Linked DNA regions of Homo sapiens. The protein of the gene in region 2 binds, or shares a complex with, the protein of the main gene of each other region. Each region holds a gene or a part of one and is shown on either strand. Other genes may lie near its edges. The genes, in order: PABPC1 and PAIP2.

The links.
Region 1: the proteins of PAIP2 (region 2) and PABPC1 are in contact, whole or in part, in an NMR structure (PDB 1JGN), measured with the Homo sapiens proteins. Residues at the interface, in NP_001028284.1 of Homo sapiens: Val107, Ser109, Asn110, Leu111, Asn112, Asn114, Ala115, Lys116, Glu117, Phe118, Pro120, Gly121, Val122, Lys123, Tyr124, Gly125, Asn126; in NP_001425211.1 of Homo sapiens: Gln558, Lys559, Gln560, Met561, Gly563, Glu564, Lys580, Thr582, Gly583, Met584, Leu585, Leu586, Glu587, Ile588, Asp589, Asn590, Lys606, Glu609, Ala610, Val613, His617.

The regions. Positions count from the first base shown.
Region 1 is NC_000008.11:100,703,003-100,713,023, reverse strand, and holds part of PABPC1 (polyadenylate-binding protein 1), read left to right. Parts: intron 1-234; coding exon 235-372; intron 373-566; coding exon 567-662; intron 663-3,292; coding exon 3,293-3,565; intron 3,566-3,800; coding exon 3,801-3,891; intron 3,892-6,026; coding exon 6,027-6,137; intron 6,138-6,218; coding exon 6,219-6,373; intron 6,374-7,350; coding exon 7,351-7,435; intron 7,436-7,967; coding exon 7,968-8,098; intron 8,099-8,633; coding exon 8,634-8,726; 3' UTR 8,727-8,727; exon of another isoform or gene 8,728-9,664; 3' UTR 9,665-10,021. UniProt on the Homo sapiens protein: Binds the poly(A) tail of mRNA, including that of its own transcript, and regulates processes of mRNA metabolism such as pre-mRNA splicing and mRNA stability.
Region 2 is NC_000005.10:139,336,344-139,346,469, reverse strand, and holds the start of PAIP2 (polyadenylate-binding protein-interacting protein 2), read right to left. Parts: upstream 4,617-10,126; 5' UTR 4,490-4,616; exon of another isoform or gene 3,064-4,489; intron 1-3,063. UniProt on the Homo sapiens protein: Acts as a repressor in the regulation of translation initiation of poly(A)-containing mRNAs. Its inhibitory activity on translation is mediated via its action on PABPC1.

The DNA.
Region 1 (10,021 bases), on a different chromosome or scaffold from region 2:
CTATGTGCATACTAATAGCTATTTGACATGTTCTTATATTTTCAGTTATTTGCATTTTATGCATTAGGTTTGAGAGTATAAATTGGTAACCTATATTGTCCCAAAACCTTGAGATTTTGGGATGGGTTTGTCTTTAGCTTTTGTGACTTAACAAATTTGTCTTAACTGTTAAGGAAATGAACTGTAAGTTGAAAGTTTTGTGATTTTTTTTTTTTCTTTTTTTTTGGGGGGAAGGCTGTGGATGAGATGAACGGAAAGGAGCTCAATGGAAAACAAATTTATGTTGGTCGAGCTCAGAAAAAGGTGGAACGGCAGACGGAACTTAAGCGCAAATTTGAACAGATGAAACAAGATAGGATCACCAGATACCAGGTTCATTTTTAATTGAACAACCAAAATAAGACAGGGATGAGGAAACCTATTTTACGTTGATTTCAGTTACTTCCAGGTAGCTGGAGGGTTTGAGAGGGGAATAGGAGAAGAAATATGGGGTAAAATAATAGACCCGATGTACTTAGGTACCACCATGGTTTTCTTTTTCTATAGTTTTCTTTTCTTCTTTTTAGGGTGTTAATCTTTATGTGAAAAATCTTGATGATGGTATTGATGATGAACGTCTCCGGAAAGAGTTTTCTCCATTTGGTACAATCACTAGTGCAAAGGTAAGAAAACATATGGTTCATTTATTTGAGGTCTAGTAAAAATTCATACATGTAGATATATGTATATAAATTTTGTATTATTATAGCCACTAGAGAGGTGTTTGCTTCGTTACTTCTAAAACTTAAATTCACATTTGAACTGGTTGTCATAGCCTAATGGTTAACTTAAAAATGGCAAGCACTGAACTCTTTGCTAAGGAAGGCTGATATCCTCACATGATATGCACTATTCCAACAACTAGTCATTTTGCTAAAGCAAGCAATTTATTAGGGACTTATAATTGTTACTATAGTTCTGATCTGTTTATTCATTTCTACAATTCATTCTGGGTAGTCAAGCCCCAGTTCCCTCCCCTGCCCCCTAGCAGTAAGAATAGAGATCATATTTTCTTTTATTTGAAATCAGAGATTAAGAAACAAAGCAGTAGTATTCTAGTACAAATTCTGAAATCTTGATTTAAGAAGTTCTCTTCTAGATGTTTTTGTCTAGCATCCGTGGGCCAAGAGTCCCCCTATATGCAAGGTTTTGTGCATACATAATTTTGCTGGGGTTGGGGAAGAGTGCATAGAAAAAAATTACAACTCAACTGAACTGGAATGACGCTGTGGCTGATCTTTCTAGTCAGCTTTTCCTGGCAAGTCCGAGGAAGCTTCTGTGAGAGTGAGGAAATGTTAGGGGAAAGGTGGTTGAATACAAGTAAGATGGAAGTGCCATGGTTGTCTTGTGTTTCAGATTATGCTTTTTATGTAAGAGTATTGGAGTACGATAGAATTTATTCCTGAATGTTTTTGTCTTCAGTGTGTTCCCTGGATATTGTTTAAATTGAGTGTTGTGCATCAGCATATTTTGAATGTATGAAGCATGCATGTTTTTCTGTTTCTTGAGACAGGATCTCATTATGTTGCCCAGGTTGGAGTGCAGGGGCATGCCACAATCACAGCTCACTGCAGCCTCAGCCTTTCCTGGGCTTAAGCCAAGCTTGTCCAACCCGCTGCTTGCAGGCCACATGCGGCCCAAGAATGCTTTTAATGCAGTGCAACACAAATTCTTAAACTTATGAGGTGTTTTTTTTTTGTCTTTTTTAAAGACGAGTCTCACTCTCGCCTGGGCTGGAGTGCGGTGGTGCAATCTCAGCTCACTGCAGCCTCCGCCTCCCGGGTTCAAGCGATTCTCCTGCCTCAGCCTCCTGGGTAGCTGGGATTACAGGCATGTGCCACTACGCCCAGCTAATTTTTGGTATTTTTAGTAGAGATGGGGTTTCACCATGTTGGCCAAGCTGGTCTTCCAACTCCTGACCTCAGGTGACCTCCTAAAGTGTTGGGATTACAGGCGTGAGCCACCGTGCCTGGCTGGTTGTCTGTCTTTTTATTGATTAAGGGAACATTTGTTTTATTTTTTTGAGATGGAGTGAAGTGGTGTGATCTCAGTTCACTGCAACTTCCACCCCCTGGGTTCAAGCAGTTTTCCTGTCTCAGCTTCCCGAGTAGCTGGGATTATATGCACCTGCCACCATGCCCGGCTAATTTTTGTATTTTTAGTAAAGACGGGGTTTCGCCACGTTGGCCAGGCTGGTCTCGAACTCCTGACTTCAGGTGATCCACCCGCCTTGGCCTCCCAAAGTGCTAGGATTACAGGCGTGAGCCACCGCGCCCGGCCAAACATTTGTTTTATATTGGAAATATTTTCTTCGAATTTTCCACTTTATAGACCTCACTTTGTGTGTGTGTCATCTTAGAAAGGTTTTCTCTCTATTTCTACATTCTATGTTCAGATTCAGAATCTACCTGGCATTTAAGATTTTTCAATGTAATGTGAATTAAGAGTTCTACATTTTTTCATTTGTCCCAGTGTGTCATGTATTGAGTAGCCCAAAGTCCTTTTTCCCCAGTACTTTAAAATGTTAACTTTAGCACAGTGAATTCCCATAATTGCTTGGGTATATTTCTGGCCTCTGTTTTATTACCGTTTGTTCCTATGCCACTCGCATACTGTTAATGTAGTTTTATAGCATGCTTATATATATTGCTGGCCTAGCGAGTGGTTCTTTGCAAGTCTTCATTGCTCATTTAAAAGGTCTTTGCAATCAATTTTAGAAGAACCTTCCTCTTGAGTGTTCTTTATACCGTAATATTTATGGATCCTCTGCTCTTGAATGTAAAAACTTTTATTTTAAGATGTGGGTATTGTAAGATTCAACTACTTTTTTCTCAAAGGCATAGTGAAGCATCTTGTCAGCTTGAATTGTTAGAATAGTCAAAATTTAATTGGGAAATGCTTCCAGTGGTGCCCAAAAGTCAATTTAGTAGGCCTGGGATGTATTTATTTAGATAATTAAATTTCAATATTGAAAATCCAATCAAATTCAGTATCTAAAATCTTTAAAAGTTTCTGTGCAGCCTTCACTTCTGTCAGTTCTCTGACCTGGCTAGGGTAATGCATATGTGTAGTTTGCCCTTAATAATTGGGTATTAAGGAAAAATTGTGAACTCAATGGGTAAATACAAGATGATTAAGCATTAACAGGGTTTAGTTATTTGATTCAGTGATTTATAATTGTCTAAATTGTAACGCTCTTTTTTTGCTCCTCATTCTACCATTACGTTAACTTTTTTTTTCTTTTTTTTAATAGGTTATGATGGAGGGTGGTCGCAGCAAAGGGTTTGGTTTTGTATGTTTCTCCTCCCCAGAAGAAGCCACTAAAGCAGTTACAGAAATGAACGGTAGAATTGTGGCCACAAAGCCATTGTATGTAGCTTTAGCTCAGCGCAAAGAAGAGCGCCAGGCTCACCTCACTAACCAGTATATGCAGAGAATGGCAAGTGTACGAGCTGTTCCCAACCCTGTAATCAACCCCTACCAGCCAGCACCTCCTTCAGGTTACTTCATGGCAGCTATCCCACAGGTAGGTTTTAGAAGGCAACCAGAACCATGAAGGTTTTCGTATTTGGTCATTTCTAGTGTTTTTTGTGCCCCTCGCCCCGCAAATGTGAAACATTAAGAAAGGGGAATTATGATTGAGTAGGAAAAAATGCTTGAGTGTGAAGTCCTGGTAAATGTTTTGAAAAAGTACATATAATTTATTGCATTATTTGCTTTTTTCTTCAACTGATAAACTCATGTGCTTTTTTTCCCTGCAGACTCAGAACCGTGCTGCATACTATCCTCCTAGCCAAATTGCTCAACTAAGACCAAGTCCTCGCTGGACTGCTCAGGGTGCCAGACCTCATCGTAAGTCTTTTTTCTTTTAATTAAGGTTGGGGATTGAGTTAAAAATAACACATTGGGTAAATCAGCTCTTCTATGTCAATGTTAGGTTAACTATTGCATTTCACATAATTTGTGGTTATGGATGTTCATTTTTATAGCATTTAAAAGCAGTGCTAAGATAGTAATGTCTACAGTGGTTTGATTTCCCTTTATAAAAGTTTTGGGAATAGGTACAGCTCTTCATTTTTTATTTATTTATTTATTTATTTATTTTCGAGACAGAGTCTCGCTCTGTTGCCCCAGGCTCGAGTGCAGTGGCTCAGTTTCGGCTCACTGCAACCTCCACCTCCCAGGTTCAAGCGATTTCTCCCTGCCTCAGCCTCTGGAGTAGCTGGGATTACAGGTGCCCGCCACCACGCCCAGCTAACTTACGCATTATTAGTAGAGATGGGGTTTGACCACGTTGGCCAGGGTTGTCTTGAGCTCCTGATCTCAGGTCATCTGCCCACCTCAGCCTCCTAAAGTGTTGAGAGTACAGGCGTGAGCCATGGCACCCAGCCAATTTCATATTTTGTCAGGCCACAGTTTTAAAGGTCTCGTTCCATTTAATCATGTATGAGAATCAGAGTCGTGGTATTTTATGTCTTGTCCTGTGGAACAGTATGTTATATTCCAAGAGCACTTAGAGTTTATTTTTTTAGACAGAGTCTCACTCTTTCTTCTAGTCTGGAGTGCAGTGGCATGGTCTTGGCTTACTGCAGCTTTCACCTCCCGGGTTCAGGTGATCCTCCTGCCTCAGCCTCCCAAGTAGCTGGGACTACAGGCACACGCCACCACGCCCAGCTAATTTTTTAAATTTTTTGTAGAGACGGGATTTTGCCCTGTTGGCCAGGCTGGGAGCACTTAGAATTTTATCATGATTATGTTTCAGGTATATTTATAAGTGTGGGCGGCAAACCACCCAGGTGCCAAGGCAAGAGACCGAGGACACGAGCTGTTCCAATATAATAAAATATAAAATAAGAATAGTTATACCAGATATAGATCTTAGATATGATTATATATGAATATCATTAATCATTAGTTTGTAGCAATTACTCTTTATTCCAATATCATAATAATCCTCACTCTATAATCATAACCTAGGAAAAACCAGGCCATACAGAGATAGGAGCTGAGGGGACATAGTGAGAAGTGACCAGAAGACAAGAGTGCGAGCCTTCTGTTATGCCCAGACAGGGCCACCAAAGGGCTCCTTGGTCTAGTGGTAACGCCAGCGTCTGGGAAGACGCCCGTTGCCAGGCGGACCGAGGTCTAGCAGTAGCGTAAGTGTCAAAGGAAAACACCCACTATTTAGCAGACCGGGAAAGGGAGTCTGCTTTTCCCCTGGGGAGTTTAGAGAAGACTGCTCCTCCACCTCTTGTGGAGGGCCTGACATCAGTCAGGCTTGCCTGCAATTATCCAGAGGCCTAACCGTCTCCCTATGGTGCTGTGCTTCAGTGGTCACGCTCCTAGTCTGCCTTCATGTTCCATCCTGTACACCTGGCTCTGCCTTCTAGATAGCAGTAGTAAATTAGTGAAAGTACTAAAAGTCTCTAATATGCAGAAACAATGGCGTAAGCTGTCTTTCTCTCTGTCTCCTCTCCCTCTCTGCCTCGGCTGCCAGGCGGGGAAGGGCCCCCTCTCCAGTGGACACGTAACCCACGTGACCTTACCTATCATTGGAGATGACTCACACTCTTTACCCTGCCCCTTGTGTTTTGTTTCCAATAAATAACAGTGCAGCCAGACATTCAGGGCCACTACTGGTCTCCGCGTCTTGGTGGTAGTGGTCCCCCGTGCCCAGCTGTCTTTTTTTTTTAAATCTCTGTGTCTCGTGTCTTTATTTCTGCACTCTCTCGTCGCTGCATACAGGGAGAAGCCCACCGACCCTGTGGGGCTGGTCGCTACATATAAGTACTCGTCCTTGTATGAATTAATGTTTTTACTTATTGATGCTCTGAGTCTGGGAAAATGGCAAGTGTTAAGACTCAGCTTTAAAAAGTTTTGTCACTTTTTAGTCTTTTATGCAAACCTCAGATCGAAGAAGACAGCATAAACACTTTTCACTCAGTAAGTTTTCCCAGTTAATGTATATTCACATCTTTAAAATGCAGCATTCCAAAATATGCCCGGTGCTATCCGCCCAGCTGCTCCTAGACCACCATTTAGTACTATGAGACCAGCTTCTTCACAGGTTCCACGAGTCATGTCAACACAGCGTGTTGGTGAGTCTTAATCCTTCCTTTAAAAATTGATCACCAATTTGAAAGAGCAAGATAAAAATACAAAATGTTCTTATTTTTTAGCTAACACATCAACACAGACAATGGGTCCACGTCCTGCAGCTGCAGCCGCTGCAGCTACTCCTGCTGTCCGCACCGTTCCACAGTATAAATATGCTGCAGGAGTTCGCAATCCTCAGCAACATCTTAATGCACAGCCACAAGTTACAATGCAACAGGTATGGATTTAATGATTTCTTAATAAAAATCACATTTCTTGGGTGAAATCAAAGGTGTGAAGACAGCTGGGCACAGTGGCTCACACCTATAACCCCAGCACTTTGGGAGGTTGAGGCAGGCAGATTGCTTGAGACCAGGAGTTTGGGACCAGCCTGGGCAACATACAGGACCCTGTCTCCACAAAGAAAACTAGCTGGGTGTGGTGGCATAAGCCTGTAGTCCTAGCTGCTAGGAAGGCTGAGGCAGGAGGATTGCTCGAGCCCAGGAGTTTAAGGCTGCAGCAAGCTGTAATCCCTGCTGGGTGACAGCAAGACTCTGTCTCAAAAGAAAAAATGTGAAGACAGCTGCATGATAGATTCTTGAGAGCTTAGCCTATCTGGAACATTCTGCTAATATGATAGTATGTAAAATGTCTTACGCTTTTGGAATTGGACAAGCAGCGAGAAATTCACATCCTAAATCACCACGCCTGGTCTGAAACAACTATTACAAGTAGCTATGGGCCAGGCGTGGTGGCTCACACCTCTATGTAATCCCAGCACTTCAGGAGGCCAAGGCAGGTGGATCACTTGAGGTCAGGAGTTTGAGACCAGCCTGGTCAACAGGGTGAAACCCCAGCTCTAAAAATATAAAGATTAGCCAGGCTTGGTGGCACATGCCTGTAATCCCAGCTACTGGGGAGGCTGAGGCAGGAAAGTTGCTTGAATCCGGAGGCGGAGGTTGCAGCGAGCCAAGATTGTGCCGTTGCATTCCAGCCTGGGCGACAAAGTGAGACTCCATCTCAAAAAGAAAAAAAATGTATCTGTGATACATAGTATATAATAACTACTTTGGCTTCTTTCTAATTCGCTCACTCAACTTCTCCACCTCATGTTTCGATGGAAGTCTACCACTTCAGCAGATGTCCATTGATGACTATTTGTATTTGCCATCTTTTTCTGTGCTTTAAACTTAAGAGTTCTCATTTTCTGTCTAGCCTGCTGTTCATGTACAAGGTCAGGAACCTTTGACTGCTTCCATGTTGGCATCTGCCCCTCCTCAAGAGCAAAAGCAAATGTTGGGTGAGTACTTCTGTCCCACCTTGTCAGTTCAGAAAGACTAGAAAATATAGGAATCACTTAGGCACTAGGTCAATCAATTGACAGCTAGGGCAGTGGAATTGATCTGAATTGGCATGAATGATTATGATAGTACAGTTGGTCTGCCTAATTAAAACCACTGGAAAGCCAATAAGAAAATGTATTGTTAGTAATAAATAGGGTAGTAGGGCATTACTCACCATGGGCCCTCACTACATTTTTGAGAGAAGGAATTTGAAGCAAATGAGAAGAAAACTTGTGACTTTGCCTGAACACCGATTTAACAACCTAATGGTAACATTGCTTAATTGGCAAGCTGATAATATCAAGAGTTAATTGCCTTGTGGCAGATTTTATTCTGTCTTCCCATGAAGACATAATGAAATTGTGGATTATGGGTTATTATATACGTGAGACAGAAGTATGGTTCTTAAACCCCAGTTTAATGTGGTAATTCAATGCAGTTAAAAACTTTTTTTTATTGAAGGGAGTTTTTGAATGTTTCTGTTCCTAGGTGAACGGCTGTTTCCTCTTATTCAAGCCATGCACCCTACTCTTGCTGGTAAAATCACTGGCATGTTGTTGGAGATTGATAATTCAGAACTTCTTCATATGCTCGAGTCTCCAGAGTCACTCCGTTCTAAGGTGATTTAAATTTATTTACCAAGTTGCCTCTTACACAGTTATTACGTGGCTTTTTATGGGGACTTAATTGTACAGAACACTTACATCGTGTTATATATAAGCCATGTACAGTTGTAAAGTCTGCATAATAACCTGTGGCGCTATTTATCCCCATTTTATAGATAGGTAAACTGAAACAGGCTGAATAATTTGCCAAATGCTCACACAGCTCTTAAGTGGCAGAGCCTGGCTTCAAATCCCATCAGCTCCAACAGCCATACTCTCAACTGCTGCTGCTTTCTCTAGTGGAGAAAGAGAAATATTTTTCGAGTGTGGGGAGGACAAGGAAAGAGTAGTGCAGGGGAGCGATTCATAATTCTAGAATAGTGGTGTAATAGAACTCAAAATTGAATGGATATAGTTGTTTAGTGTAACAATTTATACTTTCATTTGAGGGAAGAAACTTATCTTTGTTGGGAATTGGTATGTTACCATTATGAAACTCTTTATTTCCATTCCTTTCCTGAACCAGTTTATCTGTTTTCCCCTTTTTTAGGTTGATGAAGCTGTAGCTGTACTACAAGCCCACCAAGCTAAAGAGGCTGCCCAGAAAGCAGTTAACAGTGCCACCGGTGTTCCAACTGTTTAAAGTGAGCTTTTCCCTCTGGTTTGTTGTTTTAAGCTTGTTTTCTTCATCTTTTATAAAGTTTGTTGAGCATATTTTGAAATGTACATAGCAAAAGATCATTTTACAGTTCATTTAAATGTATTGCTAATTTTTCAAGGAAAAGTGGAACTAACTATAGAGGAATTAAAGGAATTTTACCCGTTAACTGTTGGATTTTTAAAATCCCAGGACTTTCAGGTGGTGTTTTTTTTTTTTTTTTTTTTTGAGATGGAGTTTCGTTCTGTCGCCCAACCTGGAGTGCATTGACGCGATCTCGGCTCACTGCAACCTCCACCTCCCAGGTTCAAGCAATTCTCCTGCCTCGGCCTCCCGAGCAGCTGGGATTAACAGGCCCATGCCTGCCACCGTGCCCAGCTAATTTTTGTATTTTTACTAGACTTGGGGTTTTGCCATGTTGGCCAGGCTGGTCTGGAACTTCTGACCTCAAGTGATCCGCCCACCTCGGCCTCCCAAAGTCTTGAAATTACAGGCGTGAGCCACTGCGCCCTGCCAGATTTTGTATAGTAATATATATATAAAATGACCTGTCACAGGTTGGCTTTCATAGTTTTACCTTTCCTTTTTGGGTGGTGCCCTTGGGTCTCTACTACTGTCTTTCATCACTCCCAAGAAATTGAGTAGTGCAGCCAGGATCAGGACCAGGGATTGGCAAATGTTTTTTGTAAAGGGCCAGATAGGAAATATTTTGGGCTTTGAGGACTGTGTTATCTCTGAAATGATCTTGTTCCAGTGTTACCATGTCAAGACAACCATAGATAGTATGTATACAAATGAACAGGTATGGCTGTGTTCCAGTAAAACTATGGATAAAAACAACCACATTGCATTTGGCTAAGGGCTTTAATTTGCTACTGACAAGTGATAGTCCTGGTCTTAATTTGTTTTTTTAACATTTACAGATTGATCAGGGACCATGAAAAGAAACTTGTGCTTCACCGAAGAAAAATATCTAAACATCGAAAAACTTAAATATTATGGAAAAAAAACATTGCAAAATATAAAATAAATAAAAAAAGGAAAGGAAACTTTGAACCTTATGTACCGAGCAAATGCCAGGTCTAGCAAACATAATGCTAGTCCTAGATTACTTATTGATTTAAAAACAAAAAAACACAAAAAAATAGTAAAATATAAAAACAAATTAATGTTTTATAGACCCTGGGAAAAAGAATTTTCAGCAAAGTACAAAAATTTAAAGCATTCCTTTCTTTAATTTTGTAATTCTTTACTGTGGAATAGCTCAGAATGTCAGTTCT
Region 2 (10,126 bases):
GTCAAGAGATTGAGACCATCCTGGCCAACATGGTGAAACCCCGTCTCTAAAAATACAAACATTAGCTGGGCGTGGTGGCACATGCTTGTAGTCCCAGCTACTGGGGAGGCTGAGGCAGGAGAATCACTGGAACCTGGGAGGCGGAGGTTGCAGTGAGCCAAGATTGCGCCACTGCACTCCGGCCTGGTGACAGAGCAAATCTCCGTCTCAAAAAAATAAATAAAAATTTAAAAATCCTGTTCTAGACGACAGCTTAAGATGTTTTAACAAATTCATATATTTCACCAGATTTTGGATAGGTAAGAGCAATTTTTTCCCAGTACTACTGCCTGGAAGTCAGCAAACCCTTTCAATTTATCAACTTAGGGCTTTATTGTGTCTTCAGCTGTTTTTCCCCTCCTGAAATGCCTCTTAGACATATTGGTTTCCAGCAGTGTCCTTTTATATTGTCTATGGAATTTTAAAATACAGAAATCTTTTAGGTTTTACAATCTTTCTCCACTAGTTTCATCTTTTAAGAATTCTCATTAAAATTCAAATATAGGCCTGGTGCGGTGGCTCACGCCTGTAATCCCAGCACTTTGGGAGGCCGAGGTGGGCGGATCACAAGGTCAGGAGATTGAGACCATCCTGGCTAACACGGTGAAACCCCATCTCTCCTAAAAATACAAAAAATTAGCCAGGCATGGTGGCAAGCGTCTGTAGTCCCAGCTACTCAGGAGGCTGAGGCAAGAGAATGGCATGAACCCGGGAGGTGGAGCTTGCAGTGAAATGAGATCATGCCACTGCACTCAGGCCTGGGCAACAGAGCAAGACTCCGTTTCAAAAAAAAAAAAAAAAAAATTCAAGCATAGTTCTCTTCTGTTTCTTTCATTAATCTACCTCCATAGGCACCATCTTTTCTCATTCCCTTGGACTCTGTTTTGAACCACTGTGATCCTTACCTTATTTGCATATTTTTTAATCGTATTTTACGCATATATACGTTTAAGCATACTTCCTTTGGCAGTTAAAGAGGATCGCAACATTTTTCAATTGGTCTGTTTTCCACTCTGAAGTCTGTGAAAAGCACCGAATTTTTTGTTTTACTATTTGGCACAGTAAGGTAACGATTAAAAAACATGGGCTCTGGGCTGGGCGCGGTGGCTCACACCTGTAATCCCAGCACTTTGGGAGGCCAAGGCCGTTGGATCACGAGGTCAGGAGATCGAGACCATCCTGGCTAACACGGTGAAACCCCGTCTCTATTAAAAATACAAAAACAAAAGTAGCCAGGTGTGGTGTCGGGTGCAGCTACTCAGGAGGCTGAGGCAGAAGAATGGCATGAACCCTGGAGGTGGAGCGTGCAGTGAGCCGAGATCGCGCCACTGCACTCCAGCCTGGGCAACAGAGCAAGACTCCGTTTCAAAAACAACAACAACAACAACAACAACAAAAACCCATGGGCTCTGGAACCAGGCTGCTTTACTAACTGTGTGACCATGGCAAGTTACTTAACCTGAGTCTCGGTTTCCTCATCTGTTGCATGGGAATTAATAATAGTACCTAGTTAGAGAACCTAGCACATAACAATTGGCATTAACTATCTCGGTGATTAAATATTTAGGGCAGTTAAAGGTCTCTAGACCAAGGGACAAGGTAAAAATTAGAGATCTTAAATCTACAGAGGTGAAACAATGTCACAAGAAAATCCCAAAGTCTACCCTAATCTCAACTGTAGTGTAACAAGGGTAATTAGGTGAGAGCAAGAATGGGTCATCCTAACTGATAAAAGCTCAAGTACATTAGAAATGCCACCCAAATTTATACAAACTGATATAAGAAGCAGAGGCTATTCAAATTCTCCAAACGTGTGCCCATCCAATATGGTGGCCATCGGCTACACAGATCTATTTAATTAAAATTTAGTTCTTCATTTACACTAGCCACATCTCAAGTGCTCATAACCACACACAGTACCTACATCATTGGACAGCACCACTCTAAACAATGAAAAAATTAAGAAAAAAGGGAGTTTTTTGGAACTGAACCTTAGCCTATATCAAATGCAAACTATTCATGCACCTGTGCAACAGGTGGTCTAGATCACAAAGGCAATGACTTGGACAACTTTAATCTTAGACCACAGTCAGAAGACGTAGGTTCAAATCCCAGCTATGCTACATAGCCACCTTAAAGTACCCTAGACCTGTCACTAAATCACACAGCACCACATAATGGTTAAGAGCATAGAATCTCTGGACTATCTGGATTTGAATTCCGACTATCATAGCTCTGTGACATTGGGAAAGTTACTTCACGTCTCATTTGTTATCTTCATTTTACAGTAGGGCCTACCTTCTAGCTATGTTGTGGATCAAATTAGTTAATATTTGTAAAGGCAATGAGAACAATGCCTGGCATTATTGTTATATAAATATTTGCTAAATAAAAATAATCTTTCAGGCTTCTATTTCTTTAATTCCCAAATGGGCAAGATAAAACTTGCTCTGTTGGGAGGCCGACGGGGGCGGATCACAAAGTCAGGAGATCGAGACCATCCTGGCTAACACGGTGAAACCCTGTCTCTACTAAAAATACAAAAAATTAGCCGGCGTGGTGGCAAGCGCCTGTAGTCCCAGCTACTAGGGAGGCGGAGGCAGGAGAATCGCTTGAACCCGGGGAGGCGGAGGTTGCAGTGAGCCAATTGCGCCACTGCACTCCAGCACTCCAGCCTGGCGACAGAGTGAGACTCCATCTCAAAAAAAAAAAAAAAAAAAAACTTGCTCTGCCCATTTCACGTTTCATGATAATGAATGACAATAGGATGTAAATTACAAGAAAATGTTTTAAAAGCACAAAAGGTTATTAGATTACAAGGGGGCAGAGGTCTTGCCTTCCACATTCTTTAATCTCCCACAGTATCAACCAAATTGCTGTGCTAAGTGTTCAAGTTTTTCACTAAAACTGGAGCATCACACTCTAGAGTCATAAAGTGATAAACCTGAATAAAGTGCAGAGTGCTTATTTAAGGAAAAGCCTGCTATAAACTCATTCTGACCAAAAGAGGGTGAAATTACCTACCTCAATTTGAGTTCCTAAGGAGCAACGTGCACAGCCTTGAATCATTAGAGGAAATCTCCATTCCCTAACCTCCATCCCTTAAAGAAACACAAGTGGGTTCTATAGTTCTTGTCAAGTTACCTATCCTGTGATTTTGTGTGTGTGTGAAAAAGTTTTATTCAAGTTCACAACTGACAAGTAGTATAAACAGACTAATTTTCCCCAAATATCCTGTCTTTCACTAACTGGAAACAGAATCACAAAAGCAAATAGTGGAGTCTCATTAAAAATTATTGTAGAGAACTTTTACTTATTGCAAACACAACCTACGCCAGAAGAAATTTCAAAAGCGACTTAATGAAAATATAAACCAACACCTGATCTAACTGTGCTAATGAAATCTGTGAAAAAACAATGCCACCACGTTTCAACATTAGCCAGCACACCCAACATGAACATCTACTTTCCGTTGAAATAAACGTCAAAGGCTGTCAGCTGCTACACCTTCCAAGGCAAATTGGAAGCCAAATTCTTTCTAGAGTTTGGGGTTTTTATGAGTTGATACGGGTGCCAAATCAGGGAAAAAAGAAACAAAAGGAAGCAGGTAAGACCCCTTTTAGGAGTCCCTAAAAAATATCACTGCTGGCTGCTGCAACAAATGTTTTGAAGACCTAAGTTCACCACAAGCCTTATTTATTTCTGGTGGCGATGGTGGGGAAGGAGGAGAGTAAGCACAGAAAATTATTAAAAGGTAAGAGGACCTTAAAGTTCATCTAACTCAACGCCCTCCTAGGGTAAGGGTTCCCAGTACCCCAAAGGTTCTTTTTTCCAGGGCATGAGCTGCAATACAACCAAAAATAAGGGGTAGCGATGGCGAAGAAACGGGAGAAAGACGATCTTCTGATCAGGCCCGTCGACGGTTGCAGCGTTCCCCCAAGACGCCAAGAGCCCGCCAGTCCCTCCGCCCCTCTCTCCCCAAACCCCAGCCTCGGCTGAGGCGCGCACGCGCAGCAAGTAGGGGCTGCGCGTGGCGACGCGCAGGCGTAAAGTGGGTAGAAACAATAAGCTTTGTTGCCGAGGCGGTGGGAGGGGGGCAGGGGAAAGGGTACCCGGCGGAGGGATAAAGGACCGGGAGAATGAGGAACAGGAGAAAGTGCTATCCCGGCAACCCTCGCGCCACTGAGGACCCGGATAGAGAGCTGCGAGATCCAAATCATTAATAATGACAATGAAAAAAAAGCGACGGCCATGTCTCGGAGAAGACAGAGACGAAGTCGGCCCAAGCTCATCCCTCAGACTTGGTGGAAAGAGGCAATGAACAACGGAGGCCGCAATGGACTCGGTGGCCAACCACCCAGGGAACCCTTTAGGCCCCTCTGCCGTCGCCGACTTGCTGTCCCTCGACCTCCGCACCCCTGTCGCCACTCTGCCCGAGAGGACCCCTCACCCAATGCACAGCAGCGGGGACGGCAGCCAACGAATCCTGTCGGCCTCCGCGGATCTCCACAGGCAGCGCCGCTCCCCCGCTCGACGTGCGCTTCGCCCGCCGCCTCCCTTCTCCAGTCCAAACAAACACCCCAGCCCGGAAGTGACTTCACTTCCGTCGCCGCCAACCCCGCCCTCTTGTTCTGTCAGCTCTGCCCTCCGAAGCCACTAGAGAGCGCGCGCGAGAACGCGCGACCCCGAAGTCTGTCTCCAAGGCTGCACACGTGTGCACGCGCAGCAGCCTTTCCAGCGCGCCCCTACGGCCGGCTGCCGGGTGTAGCAGGAACGCTGTCGCACGTTCTCTCTGGAAGGCAGGAATGGGGGCGTACCACTGTTCCCACACCCGCCCATCTTCCGAGAATGATGATATGCAATGAGTGAGGCAGCTGGGGACTGAAGAGCACCCTGACAAGATACACAGGCGTGGACTTTCACAGACATCACACACCCCCCCAAAAACGTAATATTTAGGTAATGACATAGCACACACATACCCATACACACCCCAAGAATGATACACAATGTCACACAAACAGCGACATGCACCGAGTCACGTCAAGATCCTGACACAGAAAAATAATAAACTAAGGGAAATCACAGAGGCGTACTAAATGATATGCAAACATCCGCACTCAGACATGTGCAGGCACAAAAACACACTTTTTGAAGCTGGATGCAAACGCAAAATACAAATACATGTGCAACTTCTTTGTGGCTAAAGGAGGAAATGCCCTGTCCACACAGGATAGAAAAGTGTGACCTCCGGGTTCAAGAATTTTGTAGTCCGTGATCCTGGGTGCACTGGCCCCATAGTTATTCTTACCCATGCTTCCTTCCTGTCATCGTTGACAAGCCCCAAGATATATTTCTAGTGACACTAAGCAATGTAAAGAAGAGAGTATGTTTTTGTTTTTTTGTTTTGTTTTGTTTTTTTGAGGCGGAGTCTGGCTCTCTTGCCCAGGCTGGAGTGCAGTGGCGCCATCTCGGCTCACTGCAACCTCCGCCTCCCGGGTTCAAGAGATTCTCCTGCCACAGCCTCCCAAGTAGCTGGGACTACAGGCGCACGCCAGCACACCCGGCCAATTTTTGTACTTTTAGTAGAGATAGGGGTTTCACCGTGTTGGCCAGGATGGTCTCGATCTCCTGACCTCGTGATCCACCCGCCTCCGCCTCTCAAAGTGCTAGGATTACAGGTGTGAGCCACCGCACCCGGCCGAGAGTATGTGTTTTACAAATCTGGATGTTCAAATGTGTAGATACTATCTTTGAAAAAGGGACACAAACTAATTTCTTCCCTTTGGAGAGGGCAAATGACCGACTAGGAAATGGGTGCAAATAACTATCCTTTTCTCCTGAAAAATTTGAATCTTTTAAAAACTATATGCTTGTAGTATTTACTAAGACAAAAAATTCCCTCCATGGGAAGGCTTGAATTTAGAAACCGGGTTGTTCCTCTTCAGAGCTATTTCATTCACTGAATACTCTTCTGGGCCAGTCCAAAGCCCCAAAGAAATGAATGCAGATGGTTCTGCCCTAGCTCCTGGGTCAACCACCTTGGCAGCACTTACAGATCTATATTCTAAACTGTGAAGATAAGCTATCAATCTGAGGCTGAAGGAAGTCTGAACATAACAAAATAGGTATTTATATAGTCTGAGATGACTCAGACTCTCTTTTTAAGACACAGTCTTCCATCACCCAGGCTGGAGTGCAGTGGCATGATCACGGTTCACTACAGCCGCAACCTCCCTGGCTCAAGCAATCCTCAAACCTCAGCTTGCAAAGTAGCTGAGACCACAGGTGTGTACCACCATGCCTGGCTAATTTTTGAATTTTTTGTAGAAATGAGGTTTTGCCATATTGCCCAGGCTGGTCTTGAACTCCTGGGCTCAAATGATCTGCCCGCTTCAGCTTCCCAAGGTGCTGGGATTACAGCCGTGAGCCACAGGGCCTGGCCTAACCCAGACTCTCTTAAAAGGTAAGCATGAGGCCAGGTGCGGTGGCTCACACCTGTAATCCCAGCACTTTGGGAGGCTGAGGCGGGCAGATCATGAGGTCAGGAGTTTGAGACCAGCCTGGCCAACATGGTGAAACCCTATCTCTAATAAAAATACAAAAATTAGCCGGATGTGGTGGCACATGCCTGTAGTCTCAGCTACCCGCGAGGCTGAGGCAGGAGAATCGCTTGAACCCGGGAGGAGGAGGTTGCGGTGAGCCCAGAGCATGCCATTGCATTCCAGCCTGGGTGACAGAGTGAGACTCTGTCTTAAAACAAACAAATAAACAAAAAGGTAAACATGAGATAATTGAATTTGTTATTTAGTAACACAAGCCACTTAACTGGTTATAATGGTAATAAAAAATATTTGATAAATCATGTGAAACACTCAAAGGCCAATGCTGTTTTTCCCACACAAAGGGGTTAAGATCTCAATTTCCAGATCGCACTGAGAGTTCACCACAGTGGCTAAGCGTCAGGGGCCCAGTATTTCCTTGGCATTCTCTAGACATAAGGACACTCTGCTCACATGCAAAATAAACTTCAATGTAGCAATATTATACTTGGATAGTGATGGTGATGATCTATACATGGAAAACAAAATAATGAAGGCTAACAAGTTTGCTAATGGTAAGGAGAGACACTGCAATGGGACCAACAGAGAGATCCAGTTTTAAAACACTGCAAAAATTTACCTATCTGGTTCACATAGTAACCATCTTAAGATGGAGGTTGAAGTAGAAATCAGAAGGCCCAGGATGGCTATGAGTAGGCCCCCACTGTAAATTACCACCTTCCTACAGACCCCTCATTTCTCATCAATAATGTAAAAAGTATGTACCTTCTTACCCAAACATTCCAAATATAGGAATCTACCCAAATGGACAGATGTAAAGAGAGACATGTAAGAATATTTATAGCCTGGTTATAAAACCCAAAAGATCAAAATGCCTATCAACAGGAAATTGGTTAAATGAATAATGATGCATTAAAATAGTTATTTAAAATATGTATATTCATTGATATAGAATATATCAATGCTTTTTAAAAGAGCAGGTTGCAAAACAGCATGTTTGTAAAATCTTTCAAAATTTTATATGTAAACAGGCACGAGTAGGTATAAATGCCAAGTATCTGATAGAATGGTCATCAAAATGTTAATAGCAGTATTTCTGGGTGGTCAGATTTCTTTTTTTTTTTTTTTTTTTTTTTTTTTTTTTGAGATGGAGTCTCGCTCTGTAGGCCAGGCTGGAGTGCAGTGGCACGATCTCGGCTCACTGCAATCTCTGCTTCCCAGGTCCCAGTTCAAGTGATTCTCCTGCCTCAGCCTCCCAAGTAGCTGAGACTGCAGGCGCGCACCACCATGCCCAGCTAATTTTTGTATTTTTAGTAGAGACGGGGTTTCACCATGTTGGCAAGGCTTGAACTCCTGACCTCGTGATCCGCCTGCCTCGGCCCCCCAAGGTGCTGGGATTACATGCGTGAGCCACCGTGCCCGGCCTTCCTGGTGGTCAGATTTCAAAGGAGTCAATATTTTCTGAATTTTAAAAATATTGTCTAAATTCTCTAGGAAAGCTTGAATTGCATATTGCATTTATAAACAAGAAAACACACCCCCCCAAAATGAACTCTTACATAGGTTCCTATAGTGCTTCAGTAATGGTTCCTATGCTCCTTTGTATCAAGGTAGGCAGAGAATGTAGCTAGCTAGCGTAGGTATGTAGGGTTGAGTAAGGGCCTAACACTGCAGGGTAAGCAAAGGTCCCTGCTCTGAATGAGAAGGTGAGGGGATCAAGTATTATTCAACTTTTAAAATGCCTACTTATGCCTGCACTGATCTAGGCACTAAGGATACACAGACAGTAAGTGGTGGGTTTTCCTAAAAAAGTTGTTTAGTGAAGTTTAAAACTCACCTGGCCTTAAAGAGCCAAACTTGGCCAGGCGCGGTGGCTCACGCTTGTAATCTCAGCACTTTGGGAGGCCGAGGCAGGTGGATCACGAGGTCAAGAGATTGAGACCATCCTGGCTAATACAGTGAAACCCAGTTTCTACTAAAAATACAAAAAATTAGCCAGGTGTGGTGGCATGCACCTGTTACCTTAGCTACTCAGGAGGCTGAGGCAGGAGAATCGCTTGAATCTAGGAGGCAGAGGTTGCAGTGAGCTGAGATCTCGCCACTGCACTCCAGCCTGGGTGACAGAGCAAGACTCCGTCTCAAAAAAAAAAAAAAAAGTAAAATATTCTTCGGGTGGGCGCGGTGGCTCATGCCTGTAATCCCAGCACTTTGGGAGGCCGAGGTGGGTGGATCACGAGGTCAGAAGATCGAGACCATCCTGGCTAATACAGTGAAACCCAGTTTCTACTAAAAATACAAAAAATTAGCCGGGCGTGGTGGCGGGCGCCTGTAGTCCCAGATACTCGGGAGGCTGAGGCAGGAGAATGGCGTGAACCCGGGAGGCGGAGCTTGCAGTGAGCCGAGATCGCGCCACTGCACTCCAACCTGGGCGACAGAGAAAGACTCCGTCTCAAAAAAAAAAAAAAAAAAAAAAAAAAAAGAGCCAAACTTGTGTAGTTTGAATATGCAGCATGAGCAGGATTTGGAAAATGTGTAGGTGTAGAATAGGTAAACGTTTTTGCAGAATCATCATGTGTGCCTACAGACGTGCTGAATAACTGGAAAGGCAGAAGCAATTCCTCTTTTCCAGCTGGGAAAACCGTTCCCTGCTGACTTTGTGCAGCTCAGCCTTTTTTTTTTTTTTTTTGAGACGGAGTCTTTTTTTTACGCCCGTCTAATTTTTTTGTATTTTTAGTAGAGACGGGGTTTCACCATGTTAGCCAGGAGCAGCTCAGCTTTTTTTGTTGTTGTTTCCATGTTCTCCCCATGTTCACCTCTCTAGAAGCTTGCCTTTTAAAATAACATGGGCCAGAGATACACTTGGAGTTTCAGCAGAAGCAGCCAAAATCAGGAAAATGAACTAGGAGTTATCATGAAAGTCTCACTATCCTTCACACCAATCATCACTTAAACTGCAGTCCCTTTCCACAGGCTATCACACCATAAAGCAGGTTTCCCTATTCAAATAGGGCATAGGCTGGGTTCTGTGGCTCACACCTATAATCCCAGCACTTTGGGAGGCCGAGGCAGAAGGAATGCTTGAGGCCAGGAGTTCAAAACCAGCCTGGGAAACTTACCAAAACTCTGTGTTCAGAAAGAATGTAAAAAAATAGCTAAGTGTGGTGGCACATTCTTATAAGTCCCAGTTACTCGTAGGCTGAGGCAGGAGGCTTGCTTGAGCCCAGGAGTTCAAGGCTGCCATGAGCTACTAGTGTGCCACTGCACCCCAACCTGGTAAGGCGGTGACGCTGTCTCTAAAAAAAAAGGTGGGGGTGGGCCAGGTACACTGGCTCGCGCCTGTAATCCTAGCACTTTGGGAGGCCGAGGTGGGCGAATCACTTGTCAGTTTGAGACCAGCCTGGCCAACATGATGAGACCCCTGTCTCTTCTAAAAGTACAAAAATAAAAATTAGCCAGGTGTGGTTGCACACCTGTAGTCACAGCTACTGGGGAGGCTGAGGCAGGAGAGTCACTCAAAACTGGGA